2 separate regions of the Homo sapiens genome follow, and region 2 is linked to region 1. Evidence: fine-mapped expression QTL. A gene starts in region 1. The other region holds a variant in brackets. All regions are shown on one strand. Distances are from middle to middle.

Region 1 (10,969 bases):
TAGTGATCGCCATTTTTTTTTTTTTTTTGAGATGAGTCTCACTCATGGTTCACTGCAACCTCAACGTCCCAGGCTTAAATGATCCTCCCGCCTCAGCCTCCCAAGTAGCTGGGACTATAGGCACCACATCCCACTAATCTCTCTCTTTTTTTTTTTTTAATTTTCCGTAGAGACAGGATCTCACCGTGTTGCCGAGGCTGGCCTTGAATTCCTGGGCTCAAGTGATCCTCCTGCCTTGGCCTCCCAAAGTGCTGGGAATATAGACATGATTCACTGCACCCAACCAACATTGGATTGATATTCTCTTAAATTCTCCAACTTTTTCTCCCATTAAGGGACATAGTGCTGTTTATTAGATGGGTAATATCATAGATAATTCGACTTGGACCATGGAGTTCATTCAAATTGTGTATCTTGACAATTTTAGTATTGGCTGATGTAACATGACAATCTAGGAGAGTATTTCCTTGGTATTTAATTCATGTTCTGCTTGGTTTAGCAATTTTATAAACCAGCCTAGGCCTTGCACAGTGGCTCATGCCTGTAATCCCAGCGCTTTGGGAGGCCAAGGCAGGTGGATCACCTGAGGTCAGGAGTTCGAGACCAGCCTGGCCAACATGGTGAAACCCCGTCTCTACTAAAAATAAAAAAATAAAAAAAAAAATAGCCGAGCATGGTGGTGGGTGCCTGTAATCCCAGCTCCTGGGGAGGCTGAGGCAGGAGAATCACTTGAAACCGGGAGGCGGAGGTTGTGGTGAGCCAAGATCGTGCCACTGCAATCCAGCTTGGGCAACAAGAGTGAAAATCCATCTCAAAAATAATAAAATAAAATAAAATAAAATATAAACCAGTCAGTTTCTTCATTAGAGTTCTGGAAATTCTTACCCAGTCCAAACAATATGATCCTAAAATTTATCAGAAACCTATACTCAGGCTGGGTACAGTGGCTCACGCTGGTAATCCCAGCACTTTGGGAGGCCATGGCGGGCAGATCCCTTAAGCCCAGGAGTTCAAGACCAGCCTGGGCAACGTGGCGGAACCATGTCTCTACTAAAAATACAAAAAATTAGCTAGGCACGGTGGTGCACACCTACAGTCCCAGCTACTCAGGAGGCTGAGGTGGCAGGATCACTTAAGCCTGGGAAGTTGAGGCTGCACTGAGCCATGTTCTCACCACTGCACTTCAGCTGGAGCAACAGAAGTGAGACCCTGTCTCAAAAAAAAAAAAAAAAAAAAAAGAGAGAGAAAAGAAACTTTTATGCAACAGTGCTTGTCAGGGTCCTTCCATCCTTTCTCTCTTTCTCCCTTTCTCTCTCTCTCTCTGTCTCTTTCTCTCTTTCTCTCTTTCCTTCTTTCTTCCTTTCTGAGACGGAGTCTGTTGCCCAGGATGGAGAGCAATGGCGCGATCTTGGCTTACTGCAACCTCTACCTCCCAGGTTCAAGCCATTCTCCAGCCTCAGCCTCCCAAGTAGCTGGGACTACAGACATGTGTCACCACGCCCGGCTAATTTTTGTATTTTTAGTAGAGATGAGGTTTCACCATGTTGGCCAGGCTGGTCTCCAACTCCTGACCTCAAGTGATCCGCCCGCCTCGGCCTCACAAAGTGCTGGGATTATAGGCGTGAGCCATCACTCCTGCCATGGAGCTGACTTTTGTTTTTTTCGAGACAGAGTTTCACTCTTGTTGCCCAGGCTGGAGTGCAATGGCGCGATCTCGGCTCAGCGTTAACCTCTGCCTCCCAGGTTCAAGCGATTCTCCTGCTTCAGCCTTCTGAGTAGTTGGGATTACAGGCATGCGACACCACACCCAGCTAATTTTTGCATTTTTAATAGAGATGAGGTTTCACCGTGTTGGTCAGGCTGGTCTGGAACTCCTGACCTCACATGATCCACCTGTTCCAGCCTCCCAAAGTGCTGGGATTACAGGCGTGAGCCCCCGCGCCCAGCCAGGAGCTTTCTAAACAAAATAAATAAGTAAAATATTCAGCATGTCACATGGTTAAATGAGCTCTCAAGAACAATAAAGCAGGGAAAGGGGATATAGTGTGTGTGTGTGTGTGTGTGTGCGTGCGTGCGTGTGTGTGTGTGCGTGCGTGCGTGCGTGTGTGTGTGTGTCTAGGAGGTAGATTTAATTTGGTGGTCAGGAAGCCCTCATTGAGAAGGAGACTTTTTTTTTTTTGAGACAGAGTCTTGCTTTGTCACCCAGGCTGGAGTACAGTGGCATGATCTTGGCTCACTGCAGCCTCTGCCTCCCGGGTTCCAGCAATTCTCCTGCCTCAGCCTCCCGGGTAGCTAGGATTACTGGTATGTGCTACCATGCTTTGCCAATTTTTGTATTTTTAGTAGAGACGGGATTTCACCATCTTGGCCAGGCTGGTCTCGAACTCCTGATCTCAGGTGATCTGCCCACCTCAGCCTCCCAAAGTGGTAGGATTACAGGTGTGAGCCACCATGCCGGGCCGAGAAGTTGACAATTGAGCAAAGAGCTGAGGGAGGTGAGTGTGTCAGCCACATGGCTATCAGGGGAAACAGCATTCCAGGCAGACAAAATAGCTGGTGCAAAGGCCCTGAGATGGGATGTGCTTGTTATGTTTTAGAGACAGCAAGGAGACCAGCATAGCTGAAACAAAATGAGCTGGGGGAGAGAGAGGAGGAGATCAGAGCAGTAAGGTGGGTTGGTATGGGGATGATGAGCAGTAAGCTAGTTACAGAGGACTCTGTAGGTGACAGTAAAGATTTTGGATCTGGGCTGGATGCAGAGGCTCACGCTTGTAATCCCAGTACTTTGGGAGGCTGAGGGAACAGGATGGCTTGAGCCCAATACCAGCCTGGGCAACATAGCGAGACCCTGTCAATAACAAAATATATTTTCTTCCTGTAGGAGATAGAAAAGTAAACATAAAAAAATTTATGTAAATAAATTAAGCCGGGCACAGTGGCTCACGTCTGTAATCCCACCACTTTGGGAGGCTGAGGTGGGAGAATTGCTTGAGCTCAGGAGTTCAACCAGCCTGGACAACATAGTGAGATACCCTCGTCTCTACAAAAAATTAAAAAAAATTAACCAGGCGTGGTGTCGTGTACCCGCAGTCCCAGCTACTCAGGAGGCTGAGGTGGGAGGATCACTTGAGCCCTGGAGGTCAAGGTGGCAATGAGCCAAATTCACACCACCATACTCCAGGCTGGGACAGAGCAAGACTCTGTCTCCAAAAATACAGCCGGGAAGGGTGGCTCACACCTGTAATCCCAGCACTTTGGGAGGCTGAAGTGGGTGGATCTTTTGAGGTCAGGAGTTTGAGGCCAGCCTGGCCAACATAGTGAAACCCCGTTTCTACTAAAAGTATAAAAATTAGCTGGGCAGTAGTGGTGCGCACCTGTAATCCCAGCTACTAGGGAGGCTGAGGCCAGAGAATTGCTTGAGCCTGGGTGGCAGAGGTTGCGGTGCGCTGAGATTGTGCCACTGTACTCCAGTCTGGGCGAAAGAGTGAGACCTTGTCTCAAAAATAAATAAATTAAGAATTAATTAATTTAAAAAAGAGATTTCGATCTGCCCCTGCCTTCCCCTCCAGCTGCCCTTTCTCTGCTCCCTGTGCTCAACTCAGAGCTCCACCCCCACAGGCTTCCTTTCAGCACTCACAGGCCTCAGCTTTCTTCTGGCCTAGAGCTTTTGTGTATGATGGTCTCTCTCCCTGGAACACCTTTCTCACTTCTCTCATCCATCCCCTCTTGCTGGTTGATCTCTTCTAATTATTTTCTGGCTCTACTCAAACCTCGCTTCTTCCACGAAGCCTTCTCTGATCACTTGGCCAACACTCACACCCCACAGTTGACAGTAGACATCCTGTCATAATAAGTCTTTTTTTTTTTTCTTTTTCTGGGACGGAGTCTTGCTCTGTCACGCAGGCTGGAGTGCAGTGGCGTGATCTTGGCTCACTTCTGCCTCCTGGGTTCAAGCAATTCTCCTGCTTTAGCCTCCCGAGTAGATGGGATTACAGATGCATGCCACTATGCCTGGCTTTTTTTTTTTTTTTTTTTTTTTTAGTAGAGATAGGGTTTCACCATGTTGACCAGGCTGGTCTTGAACTCCTGACCTCGTGATCCATCTGCCTTGGCCTCCCAAAGTGCTGGGATTACAGGCATGAGCCACTGCACCCAGCCCATAATCAATCTTTATGGTGACTTGAAGTTTTCCTTCACAGCACTTTTGTACTTGTGATTATACACGTGCGCACACACACACACACACACACACACACACACATTTGAGATAGGTTTTCACTCCTGTTGCCCAGGCTGGAGTGCAGTGGCACAATCACTGCCCATTGCAACCTCTGCCTCCCAGGCCCAGGTGATTCTCCCACCTCAGCCTCCTGAGTATCTGGGACTACAGGTGCACGCCACCACGCCCAGCTAATTTTTGCATTTTTTGTAGAGACGGGTTTTCACCATGTTGCCCAGGCTGGTCTCTAGCTCCTGAGCTCAAGCAATGTACTCGCCTTGGCCTTCCAAAGTGTTGGAACCACAGGCACGAGCCACCACTCCAGGCTGTAATCATATATTCATTTGTATATTTAATATCTGTTCTTTGAGGCCAGGCCTGGTGCCTCACCCCTGTAATCCCAACAATTTGAAAGGCTGAGGGGAGAGGATCACTTGAACCTGCGAGTTTAACCAGCCTGGGCAACGTGGTGAGACCTCGTCTCTAAAAAAATTTAAAAAATAAAACTTAGCTGGGCTTGGTGGTGCACACCTGTGGTCCCAGCTACTCTGGAAGCTGAGGTGGGAGGATCGCTTGAGCCCAAGAGGTGGAGGCTGCAGTGAGCTGTGACTGTGCCACTGCACTCCAGCCTTGGCGACAGAGAAAGACCCTGTCTCAAGGAAAAAAATCTGTTCTTTGAGGGCAGGTGCTGAGGCTGTCATGGTCACCTTTCTGTTCCCAGGGGCCAGCACAGGATCAGACACATGGTAGATGCCACATAGCTATTTGTTGAAGAAACAAACAAAAGCTAGCATTTATGTTTTATTTATTAGTTATTATTATTAATATTTGAAATGGAGTTTCGCTTTTGTTGCCCAGGCTAGAGTGCGACGGCGCCATCTCTGCTCACTGCAACCTCTGCCTCCCAGGTTCAAGCAATTCTCCTGCTTCAGCCTCCCGAGTAGCTGGGATTACAAGCATTTGCCAGCACGCCCGGCTAATTTTGTATCTTTAGTAGAGACAGGTTTTCTCCATGTTGGTCAGGCTGGTCTTGAACTCCCGACCTCAGGTGATCCACCTGCCTCAGCCTCCCAAAGTGCTGGGATTACAGGCTTGAGCCACCGCGCCCGGCCTGCAAAGCCATTTCTAACTCTTGGGCCCAGAAAGGATCACCAATTTCCCTGTCATTCTCCGTTAGACTATTCGCTACTGAGACGATTTTTTTTTTTTTTTGAGACGAGGTGGAGGGGCGGGGGTTCTCGCTATCTTGCTCAAGCTGATCTCGAACTCCTGGGTTCGATCAATACTCAGACAATCTTGGCAGGCGCAGGAGGACCAAATTCTAGTGAATGAGATCGAGTCTCTCGGCTCTTTCCCTTCCATGTTTTCTTTTTGATTGGCCCTCGACGATCCTCAGTGACGCCTCCCGCACCGCCTCACCCGAGAGTCAGCCGCCCTCGCTTTTCCGTGCGCACGCGCAGTATCCCGATTGGCTCTGCCCTAGCGGATTGACGGGCAGGTTAGCCAATGGTCTCGTAATATAGGTGGAGCGAGCCCTCGAGGATGTCCACGACCCGGCCTCTCGCTGAATATTCATGAGGGAGGCGGGTCGACCCCGCTGCACAGTCCGGCCGGCGCCATGAAGTGAGAAGGGGGCTGGGGGTCGCGCTCGCTAGCGGGCGCGGGGGGTCTTGAAGATGGGGTCATCGGTGGGCGCGCCTGGGTCCCCAAGGGGGCGAGGGGAGGGTGAAGGGGTGGGACGGGGGCAGCCGCAGGGAGCAGCAGTGATAGCGAGGAGACACTGAGGGGGCCCCGAGGCTCCTGAGGACCTGAGGGTTACCGGGGGCGCCGGGCCCGTCACCCTTCTCTGGGCTCGACGACCGGGCACTGTGGAGGCGGGAGAGGGGCTGAGGGGACGGGAACTGACCCAGCAGCCCCTGCCGCCAGGCTCAACGTGGACGGGCTCCTGGTCTACTTCCCGTACGACTACATCTACCCCGAGCAGTTCTCCTACATGCGGGAGCTCAAACGCACGCTGGACGCCAAGGTGGGTGGCCGGTGGGCCCGACCCGCCCACTCGACCGGTGGGGCTGCCACGCCTGGGCCTAAGACAGATTGCAGGACGTCTGGATTTTAGAAGTCCGAGGTCCCTGGGAATCCAGGACCCCATAATCTTCCGTTATCTAAAACAATAATGGTGAATAGGCTGGGCGCGGTGGCTCGCGCCTGTAATCCCAGAGCTTTGGGAGGACGAGGCGGGCGGATCACTTGAGGTCAGGAGTTGGAGACCAGCCTGGCCAACACGGTGAAACCCCGTCTGTACTAAAAATACAAAAATTAGCCAGGTGTGGTGGCGGGCGCCTGTAATCCCACCTACTCGGGAGGCTGAGGCAGGAGGATCGCTTGAGGCCAGGAGTTGGAGGCTGCAGTGAGCCATGATTGTGCCACTGCATTCCAGCCTGGGCAATAGTGACACTTGTCTCTTAAAAAAGAAGGGAGAAAAGTTCACTATATATCAGCTACTGTGCCAAATATTTAACCTGCAATTTCTCACAATCCTCATAGTCATGTTATGAGGAAGGTTTTATTATTAGGCCCATTTTATTTTATTTATTTATTTTTGAGATTGAATTACAGGTGCGCGCCACCACATCTGGCTAATTTTTTGTATTTTTAGTAGAGACGGGGTTTCACCTTGTTGGCCCAGCTGGTCTTGAACTTCTGACCTCAGGTGGTTCACCTGCCTCAGCCTCCCAAAGTGCTGGGATTACAGGTGTGAGCCACCACGCCTGGCTTTAGGCTCATTTTAGAGATAGGGATACTGAGGTCTGGGGAGGTGAAGGTACTTGCCTAAGACCACTCAACAAGGAGGAGGCAGAAGTGAGGTTCAAACCCACTGCCCAATCTTAACTGCTGCTGTGTTATCCTGCTGTTCTGAGTTGGTGGCATTGGGGGTCGGGGAGAGTCCCCAGAGTTTGTGTGCCCAAGGTTCTGAGACCCTGTGTGTTGCCCCTCTGGTCCCCAACATGCAGGGTCATGGAGTCCTGGAGATGCCCTCAGGCACCGGGAAGACAGTATCCCTGTTGGCCCTGATCATGGCATACCAGAGAGTGAGTGATGCGCTGAACCCGTAAAGGCAGACAAAGGAAGGGGCGGGACAGGGACTGAGTCCGCTTGTTATCGGCAGGCATATCCGCTGGAGGTGACCAAACTCATCTACTGCTCAAGAACTGTGCCAGAGATTGAGAAGGTAAGCTGGGACTCATCCTGGTGCTCCAGCCCCACTGTTCCCTAGGCCCTATTGGTCCCCCTGGCGGTGGCCGTCACCAGCTTTCGGGGGTGTTTGGGAAGCTGGGGAAGAGACTGGGACCTGGCAGGGCAGGGGTTTGTGCCTCCAATGAGCACAAGCTCCCCCTGCCCCCCAACTTTGGAGTAGGTGATTGAAGAGCTTCGAAAGTTGCTCAACTTCTATGAGAAGCAGGAGGGCGAGAAGCTGCCGTTTCTGGGACTGGCTCTGAGCTCCCGCAAAAACTTGTGTATTCACCCTGAGGTGAGCACCTGTTCCTTCTCCTTGCCCTTAGCCCAGAGGTAGAGAAAACTCTTTCGTCCAACCACAAGTCCTGGATCCCCAGGCCATATCTCTTGCAAAGGCATGCAGTGGCTACACACAGAATTCCCGTCTCAGTGGTCAAATTCTCATTCATCGTGGCCCAGGCAAGCACACTTCCTCCAGGGAGTCTTCAAATTCTACCCAGGCCTAGGAGAGGTTAAAAAGGCAGCTCTTAGAGTCTCTGGCAAGCCTGGTTTCCTGGCTCTGAAACTTACTAGCCCAGTATTTATGGAGAGGCATTTTCTGCCACCTGGGCCTCAGTCTTCCTTTCTGTAAAATGGGGATAATTATGTACCTGCTTCATAAGGTTGCTGATGATAAAATTGGGTGAAATGTTGCAGCCGATGCCCTTAGCATGTACAAAGAGCTAAAAGAATGTTAGAAATTCTCATGATAGGCCAGGTGCAGTGGTTCACGCTTGTAGTCCCAGCACTTTGGGAGTCTGAGGTGGGCAGATCATTTGAGGTCAGGAGTTCGAGACCATCCTGGCCAACACGGCGAAACCCCATTTCTACTAAAAATACAAAAATTAGCCGGGGGTGGTGGTGTACACGTCGGTAATGCCAATCGCTTGTACCCAGGAGGCAGAGGTTGCAGTGAGCTGAGGTCATGCCACTGCATTCCAGCCTGGGTGACAGAGTGAGACTCTGTCTTAAAAAAAAAAAAAAAGAAATTGTCATGATATTTATATGCATAATGATATATGACAAATACAATATTAGTTATCATTAAATTATGCTATAAAATCATTGTACTTGGCTGGGCATGGTGACTCACGACTATAATCCCAGCACTTTGGGAGGCCGAGGCGGGTGGACACCTGAGGTCGGGAGTTTGAGACCAGCCTGGCCAATATGGAGAAACCCCGTCTCTACTGAAAAAAAATTGAAAAATTAGCTGGGCACATGCCTGTAATCCCAGCTACTTGGGAGGCTGAGACAGGAGAATTGCTCGAACTCCCGAGGGGGAGGTTGCAGTGAGCCGAGATCGCGCCACTGCACTCCAGCCTGGGCAACAAGAGTGAAACTCCGTCTCAAAAAAAAAAAAAAATTGTACTCACTGTGTGCCAGGCACTGTTCTGAATACTTTACATGTGGTAACCCACAGAATGTATATATGTGTATATATTATACTTACATATATATGTGTGTGTATATATGTTTTTATATGTGTGTGTGTGTGTGTGTGTGTGTGTGTGTGTATATATATATATATTTTTGTTTTGTTTTGTTTTTGAGACGGAGTCTCACTCTGTCACCCAGCCTGGAGTGCAGGGGAGTGATCTTGGCTTACTACAAGCTCCGCCTCCCGGGTTCAAGCAATTCTCCTGCCTCAGCCTCCTGAGTAGCTAGGATTACAGGTGCCCCACTACACCCGGCTAATTTGTGTGTTTTTAGTAGAGACGGTGTTTCACCATGTTGGTTAGGCTGGTCTCTAACTCCCGACCTTGTGATCCTCCCGCCTCAGCCTCCCAAAGTGCTGGGATTACAGGCATGAGCCATCGTGCCCAGCCTTATTTATTATTATTATTTTTGAAATGGAGTTTCACTCTTGTTGCCCAGGCTGGAGTGCAGTGGCGTGATCTCGGTTCACCACAACCTCCACCTCCGAGGTTCAAGTGATTCTTCTGCCTCAGCTTCCTGAGTAGCTGGGATTACAGGCACCCACCACCACGCCCTGCTAGTTTTTTGTATTTTTAGTAGAGATGGGGTTTCATCATGTTGGCCGGGCTGGTCTCAAACTCCCACACTGGGCCCACAGACTATATATTATATCACATTATTTGTAAGAATATGTGAGAAATAATACATCTAGTGGATGACAAAGAGCACAGGCCTCGGTGACTGATGAAAGGGGAAATGGAGAAGGAAGGGCTGGCTGCCTTGGAGCTTTCCTTTTGGCGTAGGAAAAGGATTTGTTCTTCAGAAAAAGCCTTAGGCTGTGATGGTGCCTTAGAGGGTACAGAGCAGGTCAGGGGTAAGGGGAGTCCCAGACTGTGTGGAACCTCCTTTGATTCTTAGGCCCTGCCAAGGTTCCATGCGTTTTGGCATTTCCAAGGATGAAGTAGTTATCTTCAACCTATATGCTAAAGATTTTTCAGGCTTATTGTTTTAAAATATTAGTTTTGGGCTGGGCACGGTGGCTCACACCTATAATCCCAGCACTTTGGGAGGCCGAGGCGGGTGGATCACCTGAGATCAGGAGTTCGAGACCAGCTTGATCAACATGGAGAAACCCTGTCTCTACTAAAAAGACAAAATTAGCCGGGTGTGGTGGCACATGTCTGTAATCCCAGCTACTCGGGAGGCTGAGACAGGAGAATCGCTTGAACCTGGGAGGCGGAGGTTGTGGTGAGCCAAGATCGTGCCATTGCACTCCAGCCTGGGCAACAGAGCAAGACTCCGTCTCAAAAAATAAAATATTAGTTTTGGCTGGCTGGGCGCAGTGGCTCAGCCTGTAATCCCAGCACTTTGGGAGGCTGAGGTGGGAGGATTGCTTGAGACCAGGAGTTTGAGACCAGCCTGGGCAACATAGCAAGACCTCATCTCAACTAAGAAGACAAAAATTAGCCGGGCATGGTGGTGCACACCTGTGGCCGCAGCTACTCGGGAGGCTGAGTGGGGGAAGGATCACTTGAGCCTGGGAGGTCAAGGATGTAGTGAGCCGTGATTGGGCCACTGCATTCCAGCCTGAGTAGCAGAGGGACTTGTCTCCAAAAATATGTATGTATAACTTGTAGTTGTAAGAATGTAACAATTTTGCTACTCTTTTTTTTTTTGAGAGGGAGTCTGGCTCCGTGGCCCAGGGTGGAGTACAGTGGCATGATCTCGGCTCACTGCAACCTCTGCCTTCTGGGTTCAAGGGATTCTCCTGCCTCAGCCTCCCGAGTAGCTGGGATTCCAGGTGTGCACCACCACACCTGGCTCATTTTTGTATTTTTATTTTTACTTATTTTTTTGAGATGGTGTCTCACTCTGTCGCCCAGGCTGGAGTGCTATGGCACGATCTCTGCTCACTGCAACCTCCACCTCCCGGATACAAGCGATTCTCCTGCCTCAGCCTCCCGAGTAACTGGGATTACAGGCATGTGCCACCACGCCTGGCTAATGTATTTTTAGTGGAGACAGGGTTTCACCATGTTGGCCAGGCTGGTCTCGAAC
Region 2 (10,969 bases), 37 kb after region 1:
TCGAGACCAGCCTGGCCAACATGGTGAAACCCTATCTCTACTAAAAATACAAAATTAGCCGGGTGTGGTAGCGCACGCCTGTAATCCCAGCTACTTGGGAGGCTGAGGCAGGCGAATCGCTTGAACCCCAGAGGCAGAGGTTGCAGTGAGCCGAGATCACACCATTACACTCCTGCCTGGGCAACAAGAGCGAAACTCCATCTCAAAAATAAATAAATGCATACATACATACATGGCTCAATGCGCGCGGTACCCCGGTCACTACACTATGAAATGCTTCCAGCAGAGGGCGCTGCTGGTCCGTGGACCAAACTCCAGACTCGGCACAGCTCCGCGCTCCCTCCGAATTGCAGCCAACGTGCCCTCTACTTCCCTGTTGTCTGAGCCCCAGTGCTGATGCTTCCTCCTCCAGGAAGCCCTTTCTTATTTCCCAGGTTTCCAGGCTCTTGGGCTCCCACATCCAGCCCTGCCAACTCTGGGTCATCAGTGTGGGGAGACAGGTCAGTCCCATATTAGACTATGAGCCCCAAGAAGGGAGGAGGCGGCCAGGGGCCATGTCAGTCTCCACTGTGTCCCCAGTGCCACCTAGCACAGGCCCAACGCAGAGAAGGCATTTGGGAGAATAGGTGCTGATTGAATCATGGAAATAAAAATTCAAACTCATATCCTAACTACTCCAGCATTTTTTTTTTTTTAAGACAGTCTTGCTCTGTTGCCCAGGCTGGAGTGCAGTGGCACGATCTTGGCTCATTGTGTAACCTCCGCTTCCCAGGTTCAAGCGATTCTCCCGCCCCAGCCTCCCAAGCAGCTGGGATTACAGGCACCCACCATCATGCCTTGCTAATTTTTATATTTTTGTAGAAATGGAGTTTCCCATGTTGGCCAGGCTGGTCTTGAACTCTTGACCTCAGGTGATCCACCCACTTCGGCCTCCCAGAGTGCTGGGATTATAGGCGTCAGCCACCATGCCCGGCCTACTCTAGCTTTTTTAAAAGACAGGTGTCACTCTGTCACCCAGGCTGGAGTGCAGTGGCAGTCGTAACTCACTGCAGCCTTGATTTCCCGGGTTTAAGCAATGCTCCCTCCTCAGCCTCCCAAGTCCCAGGTAGCTGGGACTACAAATGCACCACCATACCCAGCTACTTTTTGTTGTTTTTTGTAAAGATGGGGGTCTCCCTATATTGCCCAGGCTGGTTTTGAACTCCTGACCTCAAGCGATCCTCCTGCCTTGGCCTCCCAAAGTCCTGGGATTACAGGCATGAGCCACTGTGCCAAGCTCCAGCTATTTCTTTCTTTCTTCCTTTTTTTAATTAAGACAGCATCTCACTGGGAGTGGTGGCTCATGCCTATAATCCCAGCACTTTGGGAGGCCTAGGAGGGCGGATCACCTGAGATCAGGAGGGCGGATCACCTGAGATCAGGAGGGCGAGACCAGCCTGACCAATATGATGAAACCGTGTCTCTACTAAAATTACAAAAATTAGCCGGGCTTGGTGGCATGGGCCTGTAATTCCAGCTTGTCAGGAGGCTAAGACAGGAGAATCACTTGAACCAGGGAGGCGGAGGTTGCAGTGAGCCAAGATGGCGTCATTGCACTCCAGCCTGGGCAACAAGAGCAAAACTCCATCCCCTAAAAAAAAAAAAAAAAAGACAGTGTCTCTGTTGCCCAGGCTGGAGTGCAATGGCATGATCTCGGCTCACTGAAACCTCCATCTCCCGGGTTCAAATGATTCTCCTGCCTCAGCCTCCAGAGTAGCTGGGATTACAGGTGTGCACCATCACGCCCAGGTAATTTTTATATTTTTAGTATAGACAGGGTTTCGCCATGTTGGCCAGGCTGGTCTCGAACTCCTGACCTCAGGTGATCTACCCGCCTCGGCCTTCCAAAGTGCTAGCTCCAGCTATTTCAACAGCACAGGATCGAGGGGCAGCAGAGCCTTCCCCCTGCCCCCCATTTTTTTGGCCTCACGACGCTGGACATTGGATCTGGATCTGCTACACGCTTACCACAGGCAGTGCAGGGACTGGAGCCAGGCCAGCAGGGACAAATCTCAGCTGGGTCATTTGCTAGCTGTGTGACCCTCTGAGCCAAGAAGTAACCTCTCTGGACCTCAGATTTCTAGTCTGTCAAACGAGACTCACAGGGTACCCTACTTTAAGGCTGTGGTGAGGATTACTGTATAATCCCCCAGAAAAGGCTTAGAACAGGGTAGCACCCGGTAAATACTATGTGTGTTGGGGGAGGGCAGGGGATGGAGCCGGGCGGGGAGCCAGGCAGATCTAGGTTTAAATCCTGGCCCTGCCATTTCTGTTCCATGTAAACCGGGGGAACAATGATCTCTGGCTGAGCCTCTGTCTCCTCGTCTAGTAAAATGGGGATGATCACACTCATCACACAGCATTGAGGTGAGACTTAAATGAGATAAAGATTGAAAGAAGAAGAAAGTGTTAACTAAGGAAAACCTTTCTTGCTTTTGTTGCTGCTGTTGTTGTTTTTGTTTTTTTGAGACGGAGTCATGCTCTTTCTCCCCGGCTGGAGTGCAGTGGCACAATCTCGGCTCACTACAACTTCCGCCTCCCAGGTTCATACAATTCTCCTGCCTCAGCCTCCGGAGTAGCTGGGACTATAGGCACGTACCGCCATGCCCAGCTAATTTTTGTATTTTTAGTAGAGACGGGGTTTCACCGTGTTAGCCAGAATGGTCTTGATCTCCTGACCTCGTGATCTGCCTGCCTCGGCCTCCCAAAGTGCTGGGATTACAGGCGTGAGCCACCACACCTGGCCAGGAAAACCTTCCTTTAGGCCAGCGGTGTTCCAAGTACTTTTGCACAACGCCAACAATGGCTGATGTTTGAGTTCTTACCCCAGACTGGCCCTGTGCCAACTCCTATATACAAATTGTTAATCTTCACACCAGCTGCGATGATTCGCTCCATTCCACAGGTGAAAAAGATGAGGCACAGAGAGGCTGAGTAACTTGTCTTAGGTCACACAGCCAAGGAGTAGCAGAGCCCCAGAATCTTTGTAGCTGACCCCCCAAGGTAGGCACTATTACCAGCCCCACCTAAAAATGAGGAAACTGGCCGGATGTGGTGACTCATACCTGTAATCCCAGGGCTTCAGGAGGATTGCTGGAGCCTAGGAGTTTGAGACCAACTTGGGGAACATAGGATGAACCTATCTCTACAAAAAAAAATTTATTTATTTATTTTTTTTGAGATAGAGTCTTACTCTGTCGCCCAGGCTGGAGTGCAGTGGCGTGATCTTGGCTCACTGTAACCTCCGTGCCCTGGGCTAAAGCAATTCTCCTGCCTCAGCCACCTGAGTAGCTAGGATTACAGGAACCACACCTGGCTAATTTTTTTGTATTTTTAGTAGACATGGGGTTTCACCATGTTGGCCAGGCTGGTCTCAAACTCCTGACCTCAAGTGATCTGCCCACCTCAGCCCCCCAAACTGCTGGGATTATGGGCGTGAGCCACCGGGCCCAGCCTGTTTATTTTTTTGAGATGGAGTCTTGCTCTGTCGCCCAGGCTGGAATGCAGTGGCACGATATCAGCTCACTGCAACCTCCGCCTCCTGGGTTTAAGCAATTCTCCTGCCGCAGCCTCCTGAGTAGCTGGGACTACAGACATGCGCCACCACCCCCGGCTAATTTTTGTGTATTTTTAGTATAGACAGGGTTTCACCATGTTGGTTAGGCTGGTCTCCAACTCCTGACCTTAAATGATCTGCCTGCCTTGGCCTCCCAAAGTGCTGGAATTACAGGCGTCACCCACCTGCCAAAAAAAATTAAAAAAAAAATTAGCCATGTGTGATGTGTCACACGTGGTCTCAGCAACTCAGGAGGCTGAAGCAGGGGGATTGCTTGAGCCCAGGAGTCTGAGCCTGCAGTGAGCTATTATCATACCACTGCACTCCAGCCTGGGTGACAGAGTGACAGCCTGTCTCAAAAAATAAATAAAAAAGGAAACTGAGGCTCAGAGAGGAGAAATTGCTTGCATATCCAACAAATACTCCACCCTATCCCTTAAGGCCTTAGTTTGCCACGTCAGGAAAATGGGTACATAGGATGGGAGCTTTTCTATTTTCACCTTCTGGCCATAATTTTTTAATTTAAAAAATAATGGCCAGGAGTGGTGGCTCACGCCTGTCATCCCAGCACTTTGGGAGGCCAAGGCAGGTGGATCACTTGAGGTCAGGAGTTTGAGACCAGCCCGGCCAACATGGTGAAACCCC[G/A]TCTCTACTAAAAATGCACACAAAGGCCGGGCGCAGTGGCTCACGCCTGTAATCCCAGCACTTTGGGAGGCCGAGGCGGGCGGATCACGAGGTCAGGAGATCGAGACCACGGTGAAACCTCGTCTCTACTAAAAATACAAAAAATTAGCTGGGTGCAGTGGCTGGCGCCTGTAGCCCCAGCTACTCGGGAGGCTGAGGCAGGAGAATGGCATGAACCCAGAAGGCAGAGATTGCAGTGAGCCGAGATCGCGCCACTGCACTCCAGCCTGGGGGACAGAGCAAGACCCCGTCTCAAAAAAAAAAAAAAAAAAAAAAGGCACACAAAAAATTAGCCGGGCATGGTGGCACGTGCTAGTAGTCCCAGCTACTCGGGAGGCTGAGGCAGGAGAATTGCTTGAACCCGGGAGGCAGAGGTTCCAGTGAGCCAAGATAGCACCACTGCCCTCCAGCCTGGGCGAAAGAGTGAGACTCCATCTCAAAAAAAAAAAAAAAAAAAAAAAAAGGGAATGCAGTCAGAAAAAACGTTCATAGACACAGAGAATAAAAGACTACAGAGTGAAAGTAAGCGTTCTCTCTCCCTGATCCCCGGACACCCTTCCCGCAAGCAAACCTGATGACCGTTTCCAATATACTTCCAGAGATATTCCATGAATATGATCGTGTGTGGATGTACGAGTGTGTGGACCCATTTAAGAAAAGCACACCTGATATAATCCTTACCTGTGGAGGACGACAAAATGATGGGCCTTGAACTTTTGGTGTGGCCATGTGACTTGCTTTGGCCAATAGCAGAGGGGCACAAGTGACAGTCGTGTCAGTTCTGAGCTTAGGCCTCAAGAGACCTTGAACATTTCTTTTTGCATCTCAGCATCACCATGAGACGGGCTTCCCCTGAGAGCTTCCTCTCCCCTCAGCCTGCACTCCACAAGGTTCCCATATGAAGCAGAACTTCCCATCTGAGCCCGGCCTGGATTGGCCAACTGTCAGCCAACCCCACATCCATTTTAGAGCTATTGACCAGGCATGGTGGCTCACACCTGTAATCCCAGCACTTTGAGAGGCCAAGGCAGGAGGATTGCTTGAGACCAGGAGTTTGAGACCAGCCTGGGCAATATAGCAAGATCCCCATCTCCACAAAAAAAAAAAAAAGTTAAAATGAGCCAAGTGTGGTGGCGCACACCTGTAGTTGCAGCTGCTTGGGAGATTGAGGTGGGATCCCCAGAGGTCAAGGTTGCAGTGAGCTATGATGGCACCACTGTATTCCAGCTTGGGTGAAAAAGAGTGGGGCAAGAGGTAAGAACCTGTCTCCAAAATAAAATTGTACCAAAATAAAATGTAAAAAACCATGAACCAAAAATAAAATGTAAAAAAATAAAAATAAAAATAAAATGGCCAGGCGCAGTGGCTCACGCCTGTAATCCTGGCACTTTGGGAGACCGAGGTGGGTGGATCACCTGAGGTCAGGAGTTTGAGACCAGCCTGGCCAACATGGTGAAACCCCGTCTCTACTAAAAATACAAAAATTAGCCGGGTGTGGTGGCAGAAACCTGTAATCCCAGCTACTCAGGAGGCTGAGGCTGGAGAATCACTTGAACCGGGGAGGCGGAGGTTGCAGTAAGCCGAGATCACGCCATTGCACTCCGGCCTGGGCAACAAGGGCGAAACTCCCTCTCAAAAAAAAAAAAAAAAAAAAATTAGCTTTTTTTTTTTTCTGATTGCAGCACCACGTGGTGAGGGTCTCTAGTTCACGCTCGCAGCCATGCGGTCCGAGGGCCAGCTGCAATCTGTGCAGGTCTTCGGTGGCAAGAAAACAGCCACAGCTGTGGTGCACTGCAAACACGGCGATGGCCTCATCAAGGTGAATGGGCGGCTCCTGGAGATGATCAAGCTGCGCACACTACGATACAAGCTGCTGGAGCCAGTTCTCTTTCTCGGTCCCGGCAAGGAGCGATTTGCTGGTGTGGACATCCATGTCCATGTGAAGGGGCCTAGATTTATGCTGTCAGTCCATCTCCAGAGCCCTGGTGGCCTAGTACCAGAAATATGCGGATGAGTCTTCCAAGGAGATCAAAGACATCCTCATCCAGTATGACCAGACCCTGCTGGTAGCTGATCCCCGTCGCTCTGAGTCCAAAAAGTTTGGAGGTCCTGGTGCCCGTGCTTGTTACCAAAAATCCTACCAATAAGCCCATCATGACGATCAAAATTCACCTGTATAAGTTTTTGAGAGATTTTAAAATTTCAAGAAAAAAAAATTAGCTGGGTGTGGTGGTACACACCTGTAACCCAGCTACTCCGGAGGCTGAGGAAAGAGAAACGCTTGAACCTGGGAGGTGGAAATTGCAGTGCGCCAAGATCGCACCACTGCACTCCAGCCTGGGCCTCAGAGTGAGTCAAAAAAAGAAAACAAAAAAAAGTTATTAGGCCGGGCGCGGTGGCTCACGCCTGTAATCCCAGCACTTTGGGAAGCTGAGGCGGGCGGATCACGAGGTCAGGGGATGGAGACCATCCTGGCTAATGCAGTGAAACCCCGTCTCTACTAAAAATACAAAAAATTAGCCGGGCGTGGTGGCGGGCGCCCGTAGTCCCAGCTACTCGGGAGGCTGAGGCAGGAGAATGGCGTGAACCCACGAGGCGGAGCTTGCAGTGAGCCGAGATTGCGCCACTGCACTCCAGCCTGGGTGACAGAGCGAGACTCCGTCTCAAAAGCAAACAAACAAACAAAAAGTTATTGCATTTTGGGGTAGTCTGTTTCAATAAAAAGAAAAAGGAAAAAAAGAACGAAGCAACAGAAGACAAAGCAGAGATTTATCCAAGACAATTCACAGAGTGGGAGCGGGCTGGAGCACCTCCCCAATTAGGGTTGTCTTTGTTTTTTTTTTGAGACGTAGTCTCGCTCTGTTGACCAGGCTGGAGTGCAGTGACATGATCTCAGCTCACTGCAACCTCTACCTCCCGCGTTCAAGCGATTCTCCTACCTCAGCCTCCTGAGTAGCTGGGACTCCTAGCACGAGCCACCACGGATGCGCCACCACACCCGGCTAATTATTGTACTTTTAGTAGAGACGGGATTTCACCATGTTGGCCAGGCTGGTCCGAAATTCCTGATCTTGAGTGATTTGGCCGCCTTGACCTCCCAAAGTGCTGGGATTACAGGCGAACCACCGCGCCAGGCCTGCCAGTTAGGGTTTTTATTAAGCTAAAAAGGACCCGGCAACACCCCTAGGTGCCCTTCAGAGGCCTCCAATTGGTTACACTCTATGAAGGGTTGGCTCATGACCAATCAGAGCCCAAGTGGAGACCTGGCTCGCAGTCAATCAGAGGCTGGAGTGGCTTATTATCATGGGAGGGAGAATAGAGCCTGTATGCACCTGTGGCTCTCCTGCCTCCATGAACTGACTGCACCTGCTATTCTGTTGCTTATGCAAACTGGCTGTACCTGATGAACCCCCAGTTACCCTAATTCCCTATTCTCTGCCACACCAGCGCTTTGGGAGGCTAAGCCTGGAGCCCTGGAATTGGAGGCTGCAGGCTCACTTGAGGCTGAGAGTTCAAGACCAGCCTGGGCAACATAGCAAGACCCACCCCATCTGTACAAAAAGAAAAAAAGAAAGAAAAAAAGGAATCCGAAGAGAAAAAAAGTTGAGCAAAAGAAATTAGACAAATGGGCCGGGCGCGGTCACTCCTGCCTATAATCCCAGCACTTTTCAGGCTGAGGTGGGCAGATCACAAGGTCAGCAGTTCAAGACCAGCCTGACCAACATGGTGAAACCCCGTCTCTACTAAAAATACAAAAATTAGCCAGGCGTGGTGGCACGTGTCTGTAATCCCAGCTACTCAGGCGGCTGAGGCAGGAGAATCGCTTGAACCCAGGAGGCAGAGGGTGGCCCGGCCTTCTTCTTTTCTTTGAGATGGAATTTCACTGTTGTTGCCCAGACTGGAGTACAGTGGCACTATATCGGCTCACTGCAACCTCTATCTCCCGGGTTCAAGAGATTCTCCTGCCTCAGCCTCCCAAGTAGCTGGGATTACTGGTATGCATCACCACGCCTGGCTAATTTTTTGTATTTTTAGTAGAGACGGGGTTTCACCATGTTGGTCAAGCTGGTCTCGAACTCCTGACCTCAAGTGATCCACCCACCTAGGCCTCCCACTGCGCTCAGCGAGAACATTTTCTTGGAGGAGAGAGAGACATTCACTGGGAGGGGACATGAGAGAGTTTCTTTGGGAGCTGGTAGTAGTCTCTGTTTAGATCCTGGTGATGCTTATTCACATGTACACGAATATAAAAGTTCATTGATTTTAAGATTAGGGCACTTCACCAAATAGAAATTATGCCTCAATAGGCCGGGCATGGTGGCTCACACCTGTAATCCCAGCACTTTGGGAGGCCTGGGTGGGCAGATCACGAGGTCAGGAGTTCGACCAGCCTGGCCAACATGGTGAAACCCCGTTTCTACTAAAGATACAAAAAATGAGCCAGGTGTGGTGGCGCGCACCTGTAGTCCCAGCTACTCTGAAGGCTGAAGCAGGAGAATCGCTTGAACCCGGGAGGCAGAGGTTGCAGTGAGCCGAGATCACGCCATTGCACTCCAGCCTGGGTGACAGGGTGAGACTCCGTCTCAAAAAAAAAAAAGGAGGGAGGGAGGAAGAGAGGAAGAGAGGGAGGAAGGAAGGAAGGAAGGAAGGAAGGAAGGAAGGAAGGAAGGAAAGAAAATAAATTATGCCTCAATAAAAACAGTAAATTTGGCCGGGCGCAGTGGCTCACGCCTGTAATCCCAGTACTTTGGGAGGCCGAGGCAGGAGGATCAAGAAGTCAGGAGTTTGAGACCAGCCTGGCCAACGTGGTGAAATCCTGTCTCTACTAATAATACAAAAATTAGCCAGGCATGGTGGCACATGCCTATAATCCCAGCTACTCGGGAGGCTGAGGCAGGAGAATCGCTTGAACCTGGGAGGCAGAGGTTGCGGTGAGCCGAGATCCGCCATTGCACTCCAGCCTGGGCAACAAGAGCGAAACTCGATCTCAAAAAAAAAAAAAAAAAAAAAAGAGTAAATTTGAGAAAATAAAATATGAATAAGTGTGAACATCCATACACTCCAAATATAACAGTTCCAATAAAAATACATTTGAAATGATAATAGAATATAAAAACAGGCCAGGTATGGGCCGGGCCGGTGGCTCACGCCTGTAATCCAAGCACTTTGCGAGGCTGAGGCAGGTGGATCACGAGGTCAGGAGATCAAGACCATCCAGGCTAACACAGTGAAACGCTGTCTCTACGAAAAACACACAAAAAATTTAGCTGGATGTGGTGGCAGGCACCTGCAGTCCCAGCTACTCAGGAGGCTGAGGCAGGAGAATGGTGTGAACCCGGGAGGCAGAGCTTGCAGTGAGCCGAGATCACACCACTGCACTCCAGCCTGGGCAACAGAGCGAGACTCCGTCTCAAAAAAAAAAAAAAAAAACACGCCAGGTATGGTGGCTTACACCTGCAATCCCAGCACTTTGTGAGGCTGAGGCAGGAGGATTGCTTGAGGTCAGGAGTTCAAGACCAGGCTGGGCAACATAGCAAGACTGTGTCTTTACAAAAGATACAAAAATTAGCTGGGCATGGTGGCACACATCTGTGATCCCAGCTACTGAGGAGGCTGAGGTGGGAGGATCGCTGAGCTCAGGAGATGGAGGCTGCAATGAGCCAAGATCATACCACTGCATTCCAGCCTGGGAGACAGTGAGATCCTGTCTCTAAACAAACAAACAACATCAAGAAAAAAACAAAACAAAACAAAAAACAACCTGGGATAAACCTAAAGCAGCACCTAGAGGGAAATGTATAGCTAATTTGATAAAATTGATTGATCTGGGGCTGGGTGCAGTGGCTCATGCCTGTAATCCCAGCACTTTGGGAGGCTGAGACGGGCGGATCACTTGAGGTCAGGAGTTGAAGACTAGCCTGGCCAACATGGTGAAACCCCATCTCTATTAAAAATACAAAAATTAGGCCAGGCGCAGTGGCTCCTGCCTGTAATCCTAGCACTTTGGGATGCCAAGGAGGGCAGATCATTTGAGGTCAGGAGTTGGAAACCAGCCTGGCCAACATGGTGAAACCCTGTCTCTACTAAAAATACAAAAATTAGCCAAGGCTGGTGGATGGCAGCTGGAATCCCAGCCACTCAGGAGGCTGAGGCAGGATAACGGCTTGAACCCGGAAAGCAGAGGTTGCAGTGAGCCGAGATCGAATCAGTGCACTCCAGCCTGGGTGACAGAGCGAGACTCCCTCTCAAAGAAAAAAAAAAAGATTGATTGATTTGGAGAGACTGGGGCAGGACAAGTTGGGAGCCATGAAAGACGTTATTTTATTCACCACCCACTACCCTATGGACCAGACCCTGGTCAGCTGATTATGGGGCTGCAGGCTGGCCTGGCTCTCCAGGAAGAGAAAGGAGGAATGGGCAGGGTCTCAACTCCCCAGCCCTGGGTCTGGCCTTGATTTACAACTTGTCTTCTATGAATCAAATGGCATCGTAAATGGCCCGGTTTGGGAAAGGGATTTGAGGAGTGCATGGGGGAGGGCATTACAGGGTGGTGGGCCATGGGGGTGGAGTGCTGCCCTCCCAGAGTCTCTCCTGGAGGTGGCAGCCTCTTCCTGAGGGTAGGGACAGAGACAGATGAGATGCTTAAGAGTAAGACAGGGTTTGAGGGCAGGGCTGCCTTGGGAATGGAGG

What was found. PIP is the estimated chance that this variant, and not a neighbour inherited with it, causes the effect.
Region 2: its variant is fine-mapped to the expression of ERCC2 in whole blood (INTERVAL, PIP above 0.99).

What each region holds. Positions count from the first base shown.
Region 1 is chr19:45,365,409-45,376,377 of GRCh38, reverse strand. It overlaps ERCC2 (ERCC excision repair 2, TFIIH core complex helicase subunit), which reads left to right and starts at 5,805. Exons shown (of 23, transcript NM_000400.4): 1 at 5,805-5,842; 2 at 6,146-6,245; 3 at 7,231-7,308; 4 at 7,386-7,448; 5 at 7,635-7,748. The coding sequence starts at 5,838. RefSeq lists enhancers at 1-199, 200-1,037, 5,512-5,591, 6,210-7,051.
Region 2 is chr19:45,328,155-45,339,123 of GRCh38, reverse strand. It overlaps the pseudogene RPS16P9. Among named protein-coding and RNA genes, the nearest start is that of KLC3, 7.1 kb to the left of the region's middle. The variant G/A (reference allele first, on the strand shown) is at 4,241.